5 linked regions of the Homo sapiens genome follow. The protein of the gene in region 1 purifies or fractionates together with the protein of each later gene. This does not show direct contact. Each region holds a gene or a part of one and is shown in the gene's direction. Other genes may lie near its edges.

The links.
Region 2: the proteins of MYL1 (region 1) and MFGE8 purify together in Homo sapiens (co-immunoprecipitation; one large-scale study listed by IntAct). This does not show direct contact.
Region 3: the proteins of MYL1 (region 1) and IQGAP3 purify together in Homo sapiens (co-immunoprecipitation; one large-scale study listed by IntAct). This does not show direct contact.
Region 4: the proteins of MYL1 (region 1) and TTC4 purify together in Homo sapiens (co-immunoprecipitation; one large-scale study listed by IntAct). This does not show direct contact.
Region 5: the proteins of MYL1 (region 1) and SEPTIN2 fractionate together in Homo sapiens (co-fractionation; one large-scale study listed by BioGRID). This does not show direct contact.

Annotation. Positions count from the first base shown.
Region 1 is NC_000002.12:210,311,937-210,316,907, reverse strand, and holds the start of MYL1 (myosin light chain 1/3, skeletal muscle isoform), read left to right. Parts: upstream 1-1,733; 5' UTR 1,734-1,865; coding exon 1,866-1,997; intron 1,998-4,971. UniProt on the Homo sapiens protein: Non-regulatory myosin light chain required for proper formation and/or maintenance of myofibers, and thus appropriate muscle function.
Region 2 is NC_000015.10:88,900,401-88,903,968, reverse strand, and holds part of MFGE8 (lactadherin isoform a preproprotein), read left to right. Parts: exon of another isoform or gene 1-1,786; intron 1,787-2,233; coding exon 2,234-2,418; intron 2,419-3,210; exon of another isoform or gene 3,211-3,312; intron 3,313-3,568.
Region 3 is NC_000001.11:156,524,905-156,527,565, reverse strand, and holds the end of IQGAP3 (ras GTPase-activating-like protein IQGAP3), read left to right. Parts: intron 1-966; coding exon 967-1,080; 3' UTR 1,081-2,161; downstream 2,162-2,661.
Region 4 is NC_000001.11:54,725,861-54,729,360, forward strand, and holds part of TTC4 (tetratricopeptide repeat protein 4), read left to right. Parts: intron 1-2,485; coding exon 2,486-2,572; intron 2,573-3,500.
Region 5 is NC_000002.12:241,335,980-241,340,449, forward strand, and holds part of SEPTIN2 (septin-2), read left to right. Parts: coding exon 1-119; intron 120-1,402; coding exon 1,403-1,537; intron 1,538-1,693; coding exon 1,694-1,811; intron 1,812-4,470.

The DNA of each region.
Region 1 (4,971 bases):
TCTGCTATTTATGAAGGTATTTCTGTTATAAACATAGCATTATTTTAAAAATCTATCCTGATTATTTAAATATGAGACAGTATTCTAGGTAAAATATGTTCAGATTCTTCTGACTGTCCTGTATGTAAAAAATGAGTATCAGCAGCTAAATTTAGATAATGATTGAGTCCTTGATATGGGGAAACAAAGGAGGGAGCTATCAAAATGTTTTTCCTGTAATATACATGGATAATATAATTCAGTAGATCGTGCCACCATGTGAAAAAGGAGACTGATTAACTGTGGGTCAATTGTAACTTAGGTGAATTATTTCTGATCTGAGAGTCTTAATCTTGCTTAGTTGTAATATATGGACAGAAATAGTGACCTTCTCCAAGTTGGTGAATGCTTTTATATCAGACCCAAGAAAGTGGCTAATTAATCTGTATCTTTAAACACAACTATATTTAACAATTAGAATATGTGTGTATTTACACATACATTTGTACACATGTATGGATGTATATATACACACATACAGTAAATGTATATATGTATATATACACATACAGTAAACATATGTGTGTTTGTATATATATCCTTTATATATATAAAATGTATAAATGTGCTCTTTTAAAACCCAAACTATTTTTTTAAACTGGTTAATAACTACTCATTAATTAAATATCTCACAAGTTAAAACAACAGAGATGAGAGTGGGACTGAGAAATAACTGATTACTAATTGTAACCCCCTCTCTGGCAGAATTTACCACATACAAAGTTATAAAGTGCCCATTGGTGGTCTTAAATTTCTCGATATGAGTCTAGCCTTGCAAACTGAGGAAACCAAGGACAGAAAAGGAAAAACTTTCAAGTTACCACAACTTGCACAGTGTTGATAATTAAAGTTCTTCTCTCTCTTTATGTCTCTAAAAATGTATTTTGTCTCTCTAGTATGGACAAAAGATTTATGTGATAAATAATTAGACTTTACACCATTTAGAAAATAAATATCTATAAGTATCTACTTTTCTTGGAAGCTACTTTACTATTAGAAAAGTTGTTTTGCAAGAAGGTAAATCTTGCTGTCATTTCCATCCATTTGATATGCTTCATTAAATTATACAAAGAAAATTAAATTATAGGAAGTCATGTTGAAGTTTTTTGGCATAGAATTCACTACAATTAAAGGAGAGAAAGAGTGCCAGAGTCTGTGCTCCCTAGAAGGGAAGCCACTTTAAGACATGATGGGCTTTCCTTATACGTCTGCTTTTTTATTTTTAACCACCACCACCTCTTTGCTGACCAACATTTCCTTGCAAATTATGGCAAGGGGGGAGGAGCATGAGCAAAGGAGCTGTGTGAAAGTTGGTGATACTCCCTGCCAAAATTCCAAGTTGAAATGGAATCCTTCAGTAAAGTCTCTTAGGCAAGGTGGGAAAAAAAGATTTACAACTTCAGCAGAACTGTAATTCTACCAAGAAAAAGTACAGTCAATCTACCTCACTGTCACCAAAGGATCTGAAGCTGGCTTTGTCATATATCTTTCTCCTTTATATATGGAGGTGGGGGGGGGAGAAAAAAAGGAAAGAGAGTTAAAAAAAATTGATGAAGCCCTGACCCTTTAGATTCCATTTATAGTCTGAGCCGGAATGCCATCCCCCTTGACTAGAGAACTGTCCAATCCAGCCGCATGTGTCAAGATTCTATTAGGCACTAAGTGAAATATATATGCATGCCCTTATGCCGTTTAACACTCTGGGTCCATCTTCAAGACACTGGGCTGTGGATCAACCCAACCACCACTCCTCTTCCAAGAATCATTTTGACAGGTTCTTTTGGAGGAACTCCTTCTCTTTTTAACCCACCCTTTTAAAAAAAAAAATGGCACCAAAGAAAGACGTGAAGAAACCTGTGGCTGCGGCTGCGGCTGCCCCAGCCCCGGCACCGGCACCTGCACCTGCCCCTGCCCCAGCCAAACCCAAAGAAGAAAAAATTGACCTCTCTGCCATTAAGGTAACTAAATGGATGAACTGTTTGGTCACTGAAACATCTTTCAATAGTAAGGATCTCTAGGAACTTGCAAAGGCGTGTATTTTTCATTGAGAGGAATAGCATTATTTAGTGAGCTGGTAGATTATGAAGAAGAGAATCCTGCTTTAAAAAATGAATGCCAGCATATAATTTCAAAAATTATTAGAGTATGGTATCATATGTGAAGCCTGTGCTTGCTCTATTTTTTATTCTCAAGTTTCCATTTTCTCCTAAATTGCACTTATACTGTTTAGGAGAAAAGTATATATGCTTAACAGTGTTGCATTTAAGAATATTTAAACCAGTGTTTGGGTTTAAATAAAATCTCTCTGGAAACCAGATCCCTTACTTACAAATTACATCAAAAGGAACGTTTTAGCCCCTACTTATTTCCAGAAGTTTAAAAACAGCTGATGGCCCGGTTGTCCTTTATGTATTTGACAGTTACTTTCCTTCTTCTGAAAAAGAAGATTTTTTGCAATTCAAGTTAATTCTCCCTTCAGCTTTGCCTAATAAAATTTGATACAACACTAAATGAGATCTCAGTGCAGAAAATTATGCACTCAAGTGTTTCAGTGACTGTAACTGTCATCTTGTTTATTTATACACAGTATTTAATTCAGAATTTGTGAGTTTCTTCTAAATGAAACTAACAAAAATAATTATAAAATTTGTTATTTACATGGCTTTTAGCTTATGTCTTAGAGTATTTGCCTACTGATCTTGGACTAAGAAAAATGTGATTAATTATTGTGTTAACACTTTGCTGTGATCAAAGTTCTCAATTGCCAAAAGATTATCTGCTTTTGGAAAAATAGGTACGTCTGTTAACTTCCAGTGATGTGACTCATTAAATGTGCACCTTCTCTTCATTCACTGAGTTCTGATTGGCTCATATTACAACTTGAAAATTTTTATCTAAGGAAACCTGCCTTATATGGAAAATCAATGAGCAATAGTACCCATGAGGTGAACTTTTCACTTAAGCCAAAAGTTGTATATGTAATAAATCTCAATTTTGCCAATTTACCATTGTTTACTTGTAACTATGATGCTGACCCATAAACAAACATTTCATTGACCATTTAATATAACTATAGAATTTTTTAAGTCCCAAAAATATTTAGTTAGATCACCCTTAGACATTATGTAATGAAGTTAAATATATTTATAATTTATATAACATTCCAATTAAACATGAAATTTTGTTTAAAGTATAAGTAAATTATCACGAATATTTAATCTTTAGTTTGTAGGTATTTGAAGTATTTGAAAAAAATTGGTCATGGAATATAATATTAAGAACTATTCTTAATGGATATCCATTTAGGAGGACAAAAAAATGCATGTCAGGTCTTCTGATAAATGTTTTTCTAACTTGAGGACTGCATGCATACAGTTCTTTAAGAGGAAACCAAATTTTTCATCTCCAGCAATCCTAGTTAATGTATCCTTTATAGATGCATACTGTCTACATTACACAATAAGTGAGATCATAGCCATGATAGTAATTCTGATTGTCCCTCATCTTTAACTCTGCACTCTGTAGTAACATAAGAGATATGAATCAGTGTCAAAGCTAGTCCTTTATTTATTGTGATTTATAAGACAATGTTACCTGTTTGTATCTGGTATTACAAACTTCTGTAAAGAAAAGAAAATGTACCTCTTTACCTAAGAAGCAAATGAAGTATCTAACTAATGAAAACAGGCATTAATTTTCTTCCCTGAGGAACTGTGTAAGAATGAGTACATAAATAAAAATTGTTTGGCAGGTGAGAGATCTCCAAGAAAAGACAAAACATCTCTTTTCTAATCCAGAAATTAAGCCAATTACTTGTTCATAGTCAGCAGAGAAGCAACACTTTTCAGAATCTTGAAAATTTGTTTATTATTCTGTCAATATGTTAAATTGACATATTGACATTCGTCTGTCAATATGTTAAATTGAGTTGTACAAGCTTAATATTGTGTAATATTGTGAGGATACAATATAAGCTTATACAACTAAGCAAAAGAAGGAAATACCCCTGGAGTGTCTCTATGAGAATTGGGTATGCTCCATCTTTATTATTTCATTGCAGAACAAGAGATGTGATGGATTCTAGTAAGGGACACAAATCAAAAAGAAGTTAAATGAATCTGGAAGAAACAGGAAAAAAAATAACCTTTATCTTCCATCCAGAAGGCCCATTTGCAACAGAGAAAAAAAAGAGAAACAAATGGAAACTAACACACTTTTGTAAAGAAATGTAAATATCTTCAATGCTTTGCATTCATTAATATGAAATAAATCAGTGCATATTTAGATGTATTCTAGCATGGCCAAAGAAAGTGATACAACTCAAGAATTTTATAAACTTTAATTTTATCCCAGGAGGTAACAGGCCTAATTAAAACATACATTAAAACATTTTATATTATGATGTTTTTAATCACTTAATAATGTTTCTAGATATATTACCTCATAAAAGCTATACAATTTTTTCAAGCAGAGAAAATGAACTTTAAAGAAATTAATAGAGCTGTTATATGTATTCATTAACTTTCTGAAAATTCAATAAAGAACAAAACTTAATTGGATTATAAACTTTCTTTCATAAATCAAAAAAGATTAGAAACTTAGCTGTCCTCTAGACTTTGAGTAATGCTGTAGTTTAATCATAACTGCCTTTGTGTAGTACTATAGTCATAGCCATGGTAAAATTTAATTTCTCCATAGTATTCCCAGCTAATATCTATGTTTCATATTGTAATATACTACATTTAATAGCCATATATTTGATTCCCCCATAAATCTTGAATAATCTTGAATATAATTAATTAGTTTTATCAACTGCTTAAATGTGCTTTCCAATCTGATTTCCTGGTTTGTTAGTTATTAGTTTACAACATTTCTTCAATTGTTCTGACACAAATTTTATGATACTCTCTGAAGGAATGCTTACTTGATGTC
Region 2 (3,568 bases), on another chromosome or scaffold:
ACTGCAAAAAGAGCACTGCAGGCAAGGAATTGGTAAATGCAAAGGCCCTGGGGCATGTTGAAGGGTGGAAGGAAGGCCAGTGGAGCTGGAGCCAAGAGATGGAGGGGCAGCTTGGTGGGTGAAGAGCCCCAGGGACCCGCAGTGTCATCACCTAGGAGCTTCTTAGAAATGCAGACTGAGGCCGGGTGCGGTGGCTCACGCCTGTAATCCCAGCACTTTGGGAGGCCGAGGCGAGCGGATCACCTGAGGTCAGGAGATCAAGACCAGCTTGGCCAACATGGCGAAGCCCCGTCTCTACTAAAAAAATACAAAAATTAGCCAGGCGTGGTGGCAGGTGCCTGTAATCCCAGCTACTAGGGAGGCTGAGGCAGGATAATTGCCTGAACCCGGTCAGAAGGTGGAGGTTGCAGTGAGCCGAGATCATGCCACTGCACTCCAGCCTGGGTGACAGAGCGAGACTGTGTCTCAAACAAACAAACAAAAAAACAAAAAAAAAGAAATACAGACTGAAAGCCCCAGCCTAGACTTGCTGAAACATAAGCTTTTTTTTTTTATATCAAGATCCCCAGGTGATCTGTGAGAATTACTCCCCTAGTATCTCATTTTATAGATGGGGAGACTGAGAGCCAGAGAGAGGAAGGGACTTCCTAGAGTGCTGGAGCTGACAGTCCTGTCCCTGCCCTGGTGCCCCTTCCAACTGCATTTTACCAGAAAGGCTGTCTGACTTCCTGGGGAGGCTGAGAGTGAGGAGGGTATGAACCACTAGAAGCAGATGATCTGTAGAGGGGTCTGCGTTGAGCACATTGTGCAGAATTGGTGTCCTCTGCAAAGCTGCCCAGGTTTTAGCCTGCCTCAGGCCTCTCCTCTTCTGGGGCCAAGGGACAACCAGCTCTCAGCCCGGGAGCCTCTCTTTGAGGGGGAAGGTGGTGGTTCCCTGGTGCATCACCATCAGGAGATGATGGTACCATCAGCAGGCATTGTCAACACACCCTGGAGGCAAATGTCTTGAGTGGTGAGAGTACAGGTGGGCAGTGATATAACTTAGCTGGCTCCCAGTACTCTTGAGTGGTGAGAGTATTGGAGGGCAGTGATATAACTTAGCTGGCTCCCAGAGGGCAGGGGGCTCTCCAGTCCCACCGTCCACTCCTGCCTCCCTCAATTCCCCAGAGGGATAGACACTTGTGGAGTGAGGATTCTTCCAGGTGGGAGACACCCCCATCATTCTCTTGGGAGTTGTATCTCTTGCCCATCCCCAACTGTTCTATCCATATGCAGGTGCAGATACAAGTGCAAGGCAGCCCGGCACATTCCTGAGTGTTTGGGGCAGGGCTGAGTGAAACAAAGGCCAGCTTCCCGGGCCAGCCCTCACAGGCCTGTGTGACAGCATCCCCAGAACATTTGAGTGTGCGAAGGCCCTCTGGGAGACACTAAGTCAGGGGGCTTCTGGGGAATGGAAATAGAGATGTTCCTGTGCCCCAGGAGTTGTCTGATTTCTCTAACTGCCAGCTGCTGGAGGGCAGGGATGTTGTCCTGTTCATCACTGGGTCGTCACTAGGCAGGCCTTCATCATCTAGCTGGGATGTGTAGCTGGTAGAGGTGACGTCATAGTGTGACATTAGGAGTTTGTATGTGACTTGAGCATGATGCTTAATGTCTTTCAGTTTTCTCATCTATAGAATGGGCTTACTAATTTCTACTTCATTTAGTGTTTTTTTTTCTTTTTTTTTTTGGTGGCAGGTTAAATGACTGAAGTAAGCACTGAATAAACAATGTGGTTGTTATTAAAGTAGATAGTGACTGTGCCATGGGACGGATGGGAGGCCGAGGCGATGGGGGCAGTGCTGTGAGTCCAGAAGAGGAAGAAATCCTGCCCAAGTGAAGTAGTCAGGGCAGACTTCTTGGAGGAGGTGTCTCCAAAGTCAGGCATTGAAGGAGGGCAGGAGGTGGTGGAGCAGGGGCCTTCCCTGGTGCAGAGGAGAAGGGTGGTGAGTGGGAGGTCTTGGGTGATCTGTGAGGAGCTGAGCCCGGCTGGTTGAGGTGAGGAGGTGGTGGGGTCGGCAGTGAGAAGGTCGCACAGTTGGCCCTGCAAGGCGGATGGAGCTGCTTTCTGTTGCCCAAGAGCATGACAGGGGCTGGTCAGGATCCACAGAGTTCTTTCTGCTTCATCGCCTTGTGCTCCTGCCCCTGGGAGCTGTGGATCCCAGATCCAGATGACAGCCCACCTTGCTGGCAGGATGCGCCAATCCCCTGGGCCTGAAGAATAACAGCATCCCTGACAAGCAGATCACGGCCTCCAGCAGCTACAAGACCTGGGGCTTGCATCTCTTCAGCTGGAACCCCTCCTATGCACGGCTGGACAAGCAGGGCAACTTCAACGCCTGGGTTGCGGGGAGCTACGGTAACGATCAGTGGCTGCAGGTGGGTCAGCCTTCTTGGGATATGGGGCTGGGGTTGGGTGGGATGAGGTGGGACTGCCAGATCTTTGACCTCTCTCCAGCCCAGGCTTCTCTTCTGCTCCCCAAAAGAGTTCTGGAAAAGCCTTGTTTTTCTTCGGCTTTTCTTTCTTCTTCCCACCTGTACTCCCTTCTCTTGATCCTGCTTCCACCAAGGTGGAGAAAGGGTGTGTGTGTGTATGTGTGTGTGTGTGTGAATGTGTGTGTGTGAGTGTGTGAATGTGTGTGAATGTGAGTGTGTGTGAATGCGTGCGTGTGAATGCGTGCGTGTGAATGTGTGTGTGAATGTGTATGTGTGAATGTGTGTGTGTGAATGTGTGAATGTGTGTGTGAATGTGTGAGAATGTGTGTGAATGTGTGTGTGAGAATGTGTGTGTGAATGTGTGTGTGTGAATGTGTATGTGTGAATGTGTATTTGTGAATGTGTGTGAATGTGTATGTGAATGTGTATGTGAATGTGTATGTGTGAATGTGTGTGAATATGTGTGTGTGAGAATGTGTGTGTGTGTGTGAATGTGTGTGTGTGAATGTGTGTGTGTGAATGTGTGTGTATGTGTGTACACAAGGGGAGAGCCATTCCATGGGCTGCCACAGGATTGACAAGGCTCAGCCTATGGACAGACAGCAGGGCGGAGGCGGAAGAGGGAGACATGACCCAGGCATCTTGGGACCTCTCCCTTGAGCACAGCATACATATTCTCTGACTCAGTGTCTAAGAAGCCACCATGTGACAGCCCTTGTCTGTCATTGAAACTAGGAAACAAAAGAGAGCCATGGAAAACCGGAGCTTGTTTTATAGATGAGGAAGCCGAGAGCTGGCAGGACGATGATCTGCCTAGTACCCACCTGCTGGCTGGCAGTGAGTTGGGTTTACACCTGGATGTTGGGGAACTGTGTGTCCAGGTGCAGCTGGCAGGTTCTCCAGGGAGGTCAGGGACCGGGGACAGGAGGTCTGTCTCAGGGCCCCATGGAGCACACTGCGGAGCTGGGTTCCCTGAGGAGCTGCCTGCCTGTGGACACCCTCAGGACCAGTGTCAGACTGTGGGCGGCGCCGCAGGGAGCCTCTAGAGCAGTTCATGCCCCTCCAGGCTGTGGCCTCTCCTGTCCTTCTTCCC
Region 3 (2,661 bases), on another chromosome or scaffold:
CCAGTGTTCAGGAAAGGAGTGAAGCAACGGTGTTTTTGGTTGTGGTTGTTGTTGTTGCTTTTTTGGGTTTTTGTTTGTTTGTTTTCTTGAGACGGAGCCTTACTCCGTCACCCAGGCTGGAGTGCAATGGCGCAATCTCAGCTCACTGCAACCTCTGCCTCCTGGGTTCAAGCGATTCTCCTGCCTCAGCTTCCTGAGTAGCTGGGATTACAGGCGTGCGCCACCACACCGGCTTTTTGTGTATTTTTAGTAGAGATGGGGTTTCACCATGTTGGTCAGGCTGGTCTTGAACTGCTGACCTTGTGATCCGCCCGCCTCAGCCTCCCAAAATGCTGGGATTTACAGGCATGAGTCACCATGCCCAGCCGAGCAGTAGTTTTTAATCCAAATCTTTTTGCTCTGATGTTTTACCTTTTGAGTAAGAAAAATGATTTTGGCCGGGTGCAGTGGCTCACGCCTGTAATCCCAGCACTTTGGGAGGCCGAGGCGGGCGGATCACGAGGTCAGCAGTTCAAGACCAGCCTGGCCAATATAGTGAAACCCTGTCTCTACTAAAAATACAAAAATTAGCCTGGCGTGGTGGCACCTGCCTGTAATCCCAGCTACTCAGGAGGCTGAAGCAGGAAAATCGCTTGAACCTGGGAGGCGGAGATTGCAGCGATCCGAGATCGCGCCACTGCACTGTAGCCTGGGAGACCGAGTGAGACTCCGTCTCAAAAAAATAAATAAATAAAATAAGAAAAACAATTTCAAGCCCTGGTTCTGCTTGAGTTGACATTTGATCAAGTCACTGTACCTCTCTTGCCTCAGTTTCCTCATTTGTGAAGTGGGATTTCAATGCCCTACTTCAGTGGCCAGTGCCACTGGTGACTGCAGAAGGCCCCATGATGTGAGTGTTTTGTACACCATCTGACTGGACCACATTCAGAAGCCCTTAAACTCCCCTCCCTGCCTCTTCCCTCCTAGGATCTCCTGCAGCTCCAGTATGAGGGTGTGGCTGTCATGAAACTCTTCAACAAGGCCAAAGTCAATGTCAACCTTCTCATCTTCCTCCTCAACAAGAAGTTTTTGCGGAAGTGACAGAGGCAAAGGGTGCTACCCAAGCCCCTCTTACCTCTCTGGATGCTTTCTTTAACACTAACTCACCACTGTGCTTCCCTGCAGACACCTAGAGCTCAGGACTGGGCAAGGCCCAGGGATTCTCACCCCTTCCCCAGCTGGGAGGAGCTTGCCTGCCTGGCCACAGACAGTGTATCTTCTAATTGGCTAAAGTGGGCCTTGCCCAGAGTCCAGCTGTGTGGCTTTTATCATGCATGACAAACCCCTGGCTTTCCTGCCAGATGGTAGGACATGGACCTTGACCTGGGAAAGCCATTACTCTTGTGTCTGCTACTGCCCTCCCACAGTCACCCCAATATTACAAGCACTGCCCCAGCGGCTTGATTTCCCCTCTGCCTTCCTTCTCTCTGCACTCCCACAAAGCCAGGGCCAGGCTCCCCATCCCTACCTCCCACTGCATCAGCAGTGGGTGTTCCTGCCCTTCCTGAGTCTAGGCAGCTCTGCTGCTGTGATCTGCACACCCTCCAACCTGGGCAGGGACTGGGGGGATGCAGTGTGTGTTAGTGCCCATGTGGCATTGTGGCACTGTTGCCCCCCATGGCGGCATGGGCAAGATGACCTTCCATTAGCTTCAAGTCTTGTTCTCTTGTCTGTGGTCTGTTTAATATGTGGGTCACTAGGGTATTTATTCTTTCTCCCATCCTTACACTCTGGATCATTGTGCAGACTTAATCAGGGTTTTAACGCTTTCATTTTTTTTTTTTTTTTTTTTTTTTTGAGCTCAAAGAGAGTTCTCATTTTCCCTATTCAAACTAATACCCATGCCGTGTTTTTTACCTTGGATTTAAAGTCACCTTAGGTTGGGGCAACAGATTCTCACTCATGTTTAAGATCTTGTTATTTCAGCTTCATAAGATCAAAGAGGAGTCTTTCCCTTTTCTCTTTTACCCTCAGGATTCTCATCCCTTACAGCTGACTCTTCCAGGCAATTTCCATAGATCTGCAGTCCTGCCTCTGCCACAGTCTCTCTGTTGTCCCCACATCTACCCAACTTCCTGTACTGTTGCCCTTCTGATGTTAATAAAAGCAGCTGTTACTCCCACATCTGTTGTTAACCCTTATTTCATTTTCTGTAGAGCCGGCCTTTAAGTTCTGGAACACAGCTCCCTGAGAGAACTGGGGAATCCTTCCTGCAGCCTCCCCCAGCCCTCTGCCTGCCTCCGGTGTGGTCCTACTCTGCCTGCCTGAGATCGTAAAAGCTTAATGAGATGTGGCATTTATTCTCTCTTCCTTCCCCCGGGGGACAGAGAGGAGGAAGGAATGCTTAGGTTTCTATTCTGTTTTTATCGGCCACTCTGAAGACTAAAGCTGAGAAGAGAAGCCACTCTAATTTCTACCCCACCCGTTTTACACACAGTTCCTGCAGGTTCTTTTCCTGAGCCTTGGGTGGTGATATCAAAGGTGCTTAAGCCATAACTCCTTAGGTATTGTAGATTCTACACTCTGATCAAAATCTCCTTTCTGAAGGGAAAGCTCCCTCCTTTCCTCCTTGCTTTCAGAAAGTAGGGAGGGAAGTCTGTTGGGGAGGGGACAGTAGAGACA
Region 4 (3,500 bases), on another chromosome or scaffold:
CGCATTTGAGCAGGCAGTAATGAGAATCATCACACTTAAGATGTATCAGTTGAGATTATCCAGTCTGAAGAACAGAATGAGAAAAGAATAAGGATGAAGAGAGACTTGTATGATGCCATCAAGCATACCAACAAAGGCATAGTGGGGGTCCTAGAAGGAGAGAAGAGAGAGAATGGGCAAAAGAATACTTGGGGAAATATTGGCCATAAACTTCCCAAATTTGGTGAAAAACACTGATGTATACATCCAAAAAGTTTAACAAACTATAAGTGGGATAAACTTAAAGTGATCTCTACCTAAACACATTATAATTAAACTGTTGAAAAACAAAGAAGAGAACCTTAAAAGCAGCAAGAGAAAAATGACTCTTTATGTACAAAAAATCCTAAGGAAAATTAACAGCTTTCTCATCAGAAGCCATGAAGGCCAAAAGGCAGGTAAATGACATATTCAAAGAGCTAAAAGAAAAAGACTGTAAGAATTCTATATCTAGCAAATCTATTCTTCAAAAATGAAAGAGTGGAAGAGAAGTAGTAGTAAAACCATCTATATGCAGACAACTTGACCGTGTATATAGAAAATCCTAAGGGATCCACTAAAAAACTCTTGGAACTAAGTTCAGCAAGCTTGTTGGAAACAACATCACCAGTACACAAAAATCATTTGTATTCTATAGATTTTTAATGAACACTCTGAAAATGAACTTAAGAAAACAATTCCATTTTAAATAGCATCAAAAAACACTTATGAGTACATTTAACAAAAGTAGCTAAAACTTATACTCTAAAAATACAAAAAACATTGTTGAAAGAAATTAAAGAAGACCTAAGTAAATAGGAAGACATCCCATGTTCATAGATTAGATCTTAATATTGTTAGATGGCAATACTCCCAAAATTAGTGTATCAATTCAGTGTAATTTTCTTTTTTGAGACATGAACTTGCTCTAATATTCAGGCTGGAGTGCAGTGGTATGATCATGGCTCGCTGCAACCTCAAACTCCTGGGCTCAAGCAGCCCTCCTGCCTCAGTCTCCCAAGCAACTGGGACTATAGGCATGTGATGCCACATCTGGCTAATTTCAGTGCAATCTGTATCAAAAGTCCAATTGGCTTCTCTGCAGAAATGGACAGGCTGATCATAATATTCACATAGAAATTCAAGGGACTCTGAATGACCAACAATCATGAAAGACAAAAAAAAAAAAAAAACAAAATTGGAAGACTCACACTTCCCAATTTCAAAACATACGACAGAGCTACAGTAATCAAGGCATTGTGGTACTGGCATAACAATAGACATATAGGTCAATGTAATAAAATTTAGAGCTCAGAAATAAGCCCTCACATTTATGGGGAATTTATTTTCAACAAGTGTGCCAAGACCATTCAATAGGGAGGTAATCTTTTCAACAAAGGATAGTGGGACAACTGGATATTCACATGTGGGAGAATGAAGCTAGAACTTTACCTCATACTATATAAAAAAGTTACCCAAAGTAGATCAAATACCCAAATGTAAGAGCTAAGACTATACAACTCTTAAAAGAAAACATAGATATGAATCTTCATGAACTTGGATATGACACAAAGCACAAGCAACAAAAGGAAAAGTAGATTGATTGCACTTCATCAAAAGTAAAAACTTTTTGCTTCAAAGGATACCATCAAAAAAATGAAAAGATAAATGTGAAGAAAAAAGTGAAAAGGGGCCAGATGCAGTGGCTCACACCTGTAATCCTAGCATTTTGGGAGGCCAGGGCAGGAGGACCACTTGAGGCCAGGAATTCGAGACCAACCTGGGCAACAAAGTGAGACCTCATCTCTACAAAAAAAAAAAAAAAAAAAAAAGTGAAAAAGCCCACAGAATGGAAGACAATATTGGTAAGTCATAAGGGACTTTTATCTACAACATATAAACAACTCTTATCATCTCAATAAGACAGGTAACTCAGTTTTTTAAATGAGGAAAGGATGTGAATAGACACTTCTCCAAAGACACACAAATGGCCAAAAAGCACATGAAAAGATGTTCAACATCATTAATAATTAGGAAATGCAAATCAAAACCATAGTAAGATACCATTGCATACCCACTAGGGTGGTTATACTTTTTAAAAAAAATCTATAGAGACAGGGTTTCTGTCACCCAGGCTATGTTTCGTAGCACTCGGATCACACGACCAGAGTAGTACATAATCCACCTGTTATACTGGCTCTTTACTTGTCTGTACCCCTCAACCCCTCAGTAGACTGTGAGTTCCTTGGGTACATACAGGAAGTAAATTTAAACTGCTGCTGCCACTGGGTCTGACATCTAGGCATGTACTTTGTAAATGTTTATTGAACTGAATCTGGCCACTGGTATTCCTTAACACAGGAGCTTGGGTTGGATAGAGGCCAGAGATAATAATTTAGGAGCAGGCTAGTGCAATAGAAGAGGAAGCCAGGTCTCTAGAGCTGATGCATCTAAATTTCATTTTTAGCGAATTGAACAGAGGGATGTGAGGAAAGCCAACTTGAAAGAAAAGAAGGAGAGGAATCAGAATGAGGCTTTACTCCAGGCCATCAAGGTGAGTTCTTAAACCTTAGGTTTTTATGGTCCTGCTAAATCCACTAATCCTGTGAAGCTTGTTGGGAACCTTTCTTGGGATGCTTTACCTGAAGGAATTTGTTCATTTTCTTTCTACTTTGGTAAAGCAGTGTGACAGAGGAGACCAGGCTCTGGAGTCAGGCCACCCCAGTTCAGTCAGCTCTCTCATGTGCATGTGTTGGTCTCAGTAACATATACAGTTGTCTCCACTTACCTGAAGCAGATGTATTCCAGGATCCACAGTGGATGCTTGAAATCTCAAATAGTTCCAAACCTGATTGCCATCAGTCAGAACACATTTCTGTTTGTGTCTTCCACCCACAAATATAATGCCTTTTCTATCTTAGCTAAAGCACTTATCACACACTGTGGCCATAATTTTTGCAGTTTGAGGTACATCAGCAACAGCAAAACTAGCATGAATTTCTTTTTCCTTCTTTGTAATTTCACAGATAGAAGGTTGCTCTTACCATAGATCTTAGCAACCTCAGCATACAATTTTTCTTCTAATTAAGTTGAGAAATTTCACCTTTTTACTTAAAGGAGGTAGTTTATAGCTTCTATTTGGCATATCCGAATTGCCAGCATCAGTACTCTTGTGCTTTGGGGTCCTTATTAAGTAAAATGAGTGTTACTTAATACAGGGACTGTGATACCATGACAGTCAATCTGATCATTGAGATGGGTGCTAACTCACAGGTGGGTATCATCTACAGCGTGGATGTGCTGGCCAAAGAGCAGAGCCCGTGATTTCATCATCTGCTACTCAGTGCATAATTTAAAACTTACAGGTTGTTTATTTCTGGAATTTTTCATTTAATATTTTCAGACCATGGTTGACCACTGGTAACTGAATCTGTGGAAAGCAAAACCGTGGATAAGGGGACACTACTGTACTGAATACCTGC
Region 5 (4,470 bases), about 31 Mb from region 1:
ATTGAAAGAACTGTCCAGATTGAGGCTTCAACTGTTGAAATTGAAGAGCGAGGGGTCAAGCTACGCCTGACAGTGGTAGATACCCCTGGCTATGGTGACGCTATCAACTGCAGAGATTGGTATGCTCCCCCATGCCCAGGGATCTGCATTTGTTTACTTAATATACTTCATAAATTTATAGATAGTGTTAATGAGTGATTATTAAGTTTGGGATTGCTGTATATAATAAAACACCTAGACAATTTAAAGCGTGTTAAATGTTGACTTTTTAAATAAGGAATTTTATAGAGAGTAATTTTTTTCTGGTACTCTACTGTAATTTGAGATCGCAAAGCCAGTCATCCATAGACTGCTAGTATAAATGAAACACCTGGATTTGAGCCGTGGTTGGTGACCGAGATACTGTAGTACATCCTTTCTATGTGGAAGGAAGTGAAACCTGTTAGAGAGTGGGTTGAGTCGTAGTGTCTGTAAATGACTGCTCATTGGCATCATTTTCACAAATAAGGAAATGAAGAAGTAGAAGATAGAGCAGTCTGTCACCTGTACCGTGCAAAGAATGCCACTTTTGTTGTACAAACTCCCTCCTGGTTCTATTCCTGTCAACATAAAGCATCAGGTTTCCACCACTAGATGAAAAGGGGAAGGTTCTGTTATCTTTCTCCTACATTTAGGAATTTCTCCCTTCTTACATGTGAAAGTGCTGTACTGTTTCCCAGCTCAGTTAAATGCTGTTTCCCAGCTCAGATAAACCTGTTCTTGACCCATGTTCTCTACCACCCTGTTCCTCTGCCCCTTTTCACAGTCACGTTCCTGAAAAGAATTGGCAGCCCTGGCTGGGTGCGATGGCTCATGCCTGTAATCCCAGCACTTTGGGAGGCTGAGGTGGGCTGATCACAAGGTCAGGAGTTCGAGACCAGCCTGGCCAACATGGTGAAACCCTGTCTCTACTAAAAATACAAAAATTAGCCGGGCGTGGTGGCGTGTGCCTATAATCCCAGCTACTTGGGAGGCTGAGGCAGGAGAATCGCTTGAACCCTGGAAGCAGAGGTTGCAGTGAGCCGAGATCACGCCACTGCACTCCAGCCTGGGCAACAGTGCAAGACTCAGTCTCAAAAAAAAAAAGAACGAATTGGCAGCCCTGTCTACACTGGCCCTCTCTCAGGTGCATCATAACCTATTCCATTCAGGCTTTTGACTCTCAGCACTTAGGGGCAGTTATGCTTGGCATAGTTTCCAAAAACTTCCATTTGCCAAATCTAAAAGTCAGTCTTCTGTTCTCATCTTGAAAATGAATTATTAAATTATGTATATTTGGGCGGAGGCACTTGTTTTCCCTTTGAAGTCAGGGACCCCCTGTTTTATACCCTATGATTATTGTTAATGTTTCTGTTTCTCTCAGTTTTAAGACAATTATCTCCTATATTGATGAGCAATTTGAGAGGTACCTGCATGACGAGAGCGGCTTGAACAGGCGGCACATCATTGATAATAGGGTGCATTGTTGCTTTTACTTTATTTCACCTTTTGGACATGGGTAAGTAATTGTTTATCGTGGAGAAATGCTTTACTACATGGGTTTGTAAGTTTTACCCAAACTGTGTATTTTAATATAAGAATTAAGATAATTTGAGAGAGAAGAGTTTTGTATGTATTTTTTTTAAATAAGTGACAATTCTAAAATTAATTTTAGACTTAAGCCCTTAGATGTGGCGTTTATGAAGGCAATACACAACAAGGTGAATATTGTGCCTGTCATTGCAAAAGCTGACACTCTCACCCTGAAGGAACGGGAGCGGCTGAAGAAAAGGGTGAGTGAGGCTGGCGTCCTGCCCTCCCTCTGGGTGCGACTCGGGGGCATGGGGATGAAGAAAGGAGTGTGTTCCCACGCTCAGTCTGCTCAGGTGTCGGGAGGCAGGGCGGGAGAATTTTTCCTGCATTTTAGTGGTGGTTTTCAAGGAGAACCTGATGGTTACAAATTTTAATTTTTGCCTTCATGAAGGTATCAAATTTCTATTCTTTAAATTCTCCTTATATTTAAAATGCCCTCGATGAGTAGCAGTTGGTTACACACAAGTACCTTCCATGGGAGTTAAATGACTCAAATATAGAAATGTGATCTCTCCATGAAGTTTGTTATTTTACCTAAATTCTTTACTGCAAATGACCCATACAAGGATGTATCTAAGTAGACTGGTTCTCTGTTCTGTTTGGAAACATAGCAGTTGTCAGCCAGCGAAGCGCCTCTCACCCGCCAGCAGCTCCTGTGGTGTCCCAGTTTTAGTGCCTCTTCCGTGTATGTCTGTAAAGCCTCTTTATTGATTCTCTGCTATATATTTTTAAATTGCTTACTTTGTTCTGATTATATGCTCCTTAAGAAAGTCCAAATAGTTTATATATGCTAAACTCTAAAAATACAAATCCCTAACTGAACATACCGGTACGTGCATAAAAATACAAATCCCTAAATGAACATACCGATCTGTGCGTGTAATCACAGTTGCTGGGGCAGGGTAGGGGGATACAGCAGGGGGTTCAGGCAGGAGGATCACTTGAGCCCAGAAGTTGGAGGCCAACCTCAGCAACATAGCAATACGCTGTCTCTAAAAAAATATATATATATATTTTATATATATAATATATAATTAATAAATATATATAATATATATTACATATATATTATATCTATATTATTTATATTACATATGTAATATATATTATATTTATATTATTTATATAATATATTATATATATTATATTATTTATATGTAATATATTTATATTGTTTATATATATTATATTTATATTATTTATATATAATACATATTATATTTATATTATTTATATATAATATATATAATAAATATATAATATATATAAAAATATATATATTTAATATATCTATAATATATATTATATATATTATATATAATATATATAATTGTACATATATTTATTATATATATTATATATATAATATATATTATAAATATAATATATAAATATATTTATAAATATATATAAATATTATATTTATACATTATATTTATATACATATTATATATACATTTTTATATATTATATATATATAAATATAATATACATATATTTTTTAAAATAAAAGAGTTTCTAGGCCGAGTGTGGTGGCTCACGCCTGTAATCCCTGCACTTTGGAAGGCTGAGGCAGGCACATCACCAGAGGTCAGGAGGTCGAGACCAGCCTGGCCAACATGGCAAAACTCCGTCTCTAAAAAATTACAAAAGTTAGCCGGGCGTGGTGGCGGGCATCTGTAGTCCCAGCCACTCAGGAGGCTGAAGCAAAAGAATCGCTTCAACCCAGGAGGCAGAGGTTGTTTGCAGTCCAGCCTGGGTGACAGAGCAAGACTCCGTCTCAAGAAAAAAAAAAAAGAATTTCTGTAATTACCCACAGAAAGAACAACTGTTAAGTATATATCCTTCTAGAACATAGCTTATGTTTTTGGTTTTGCAGAATGAAATCACATAGTAATACTATTCTGCCATTTGATTTTTCTATTTAAAAATATTTGGAAGCATCCTCATATATATACTGTATCCTAATTCTTCCTGGATGCACAGCATTCCACCATATGAATATACTCTAACTTGTCCAGTTTCCTGCTGATGAATATTTGGCTTACTTTTTGTTTTACTCTGGCCCCTTTTCTTCTTTGACCAAATTTACTGTTTCTTTGCCCCTTGCTCGCTGCTTTTGCTAGTGATACCCTCTGCCTGGAACAGTCTTCCCTCAGATACCTGTGTGGGGAACTCCCTCACTGAGCCCAACGCTGCACACAAGATTTCACATCTCCATCCCCTGCTCTGCTGGTAGCACTCCCCCCACACTGCATAAAGTATTTCTCTAGCGTGTTTTTTGGCTTCTCCTGACCCCTGACCCCAGGTCCTGAGATCAGGAATCTGCTTTGTTCACTTATGTATTCCCAGAGTTCCGAATAATGTCTGGCACATAATAGATTTGTTGCATAATTGTTGTAATGAACACTGGTGTACATCTATCTTTTCACAATTGTGTGAGCCAAACGAATTCTTAGGAAATAAGTATACATTTAAATTTTTGAAGGATGACTAAATTTGCTCTAAAGTAAGTTTGTAACAATTTACATTTCCAAAGTGTACTCTTCTCTCCACCCCCTAAAACTGTCCTGGTTATGTTGCCAGTTTTTGTAATGTGTTTCCTGTCTGAGAAATTGTATCTCATTTGAATTTGCCTTTCCTTGATTGCCGATGTGAGTATCTGTGCTGGTGTTGATGCCGGTTGGTGTATTCTCTCAGGTTGCAGGGACTTGGCTCTTGCTTTTTTATTGACTTAACACATATACTTATTTTTAGATGTTGACTATCACGTTGCAGATGATTTCACCTGGTTTGACTTTCATTTTTTCACATTTTTCTTGGTGCTTTTTTCCAAAGCAATTTTTAAGCAGCATGTAG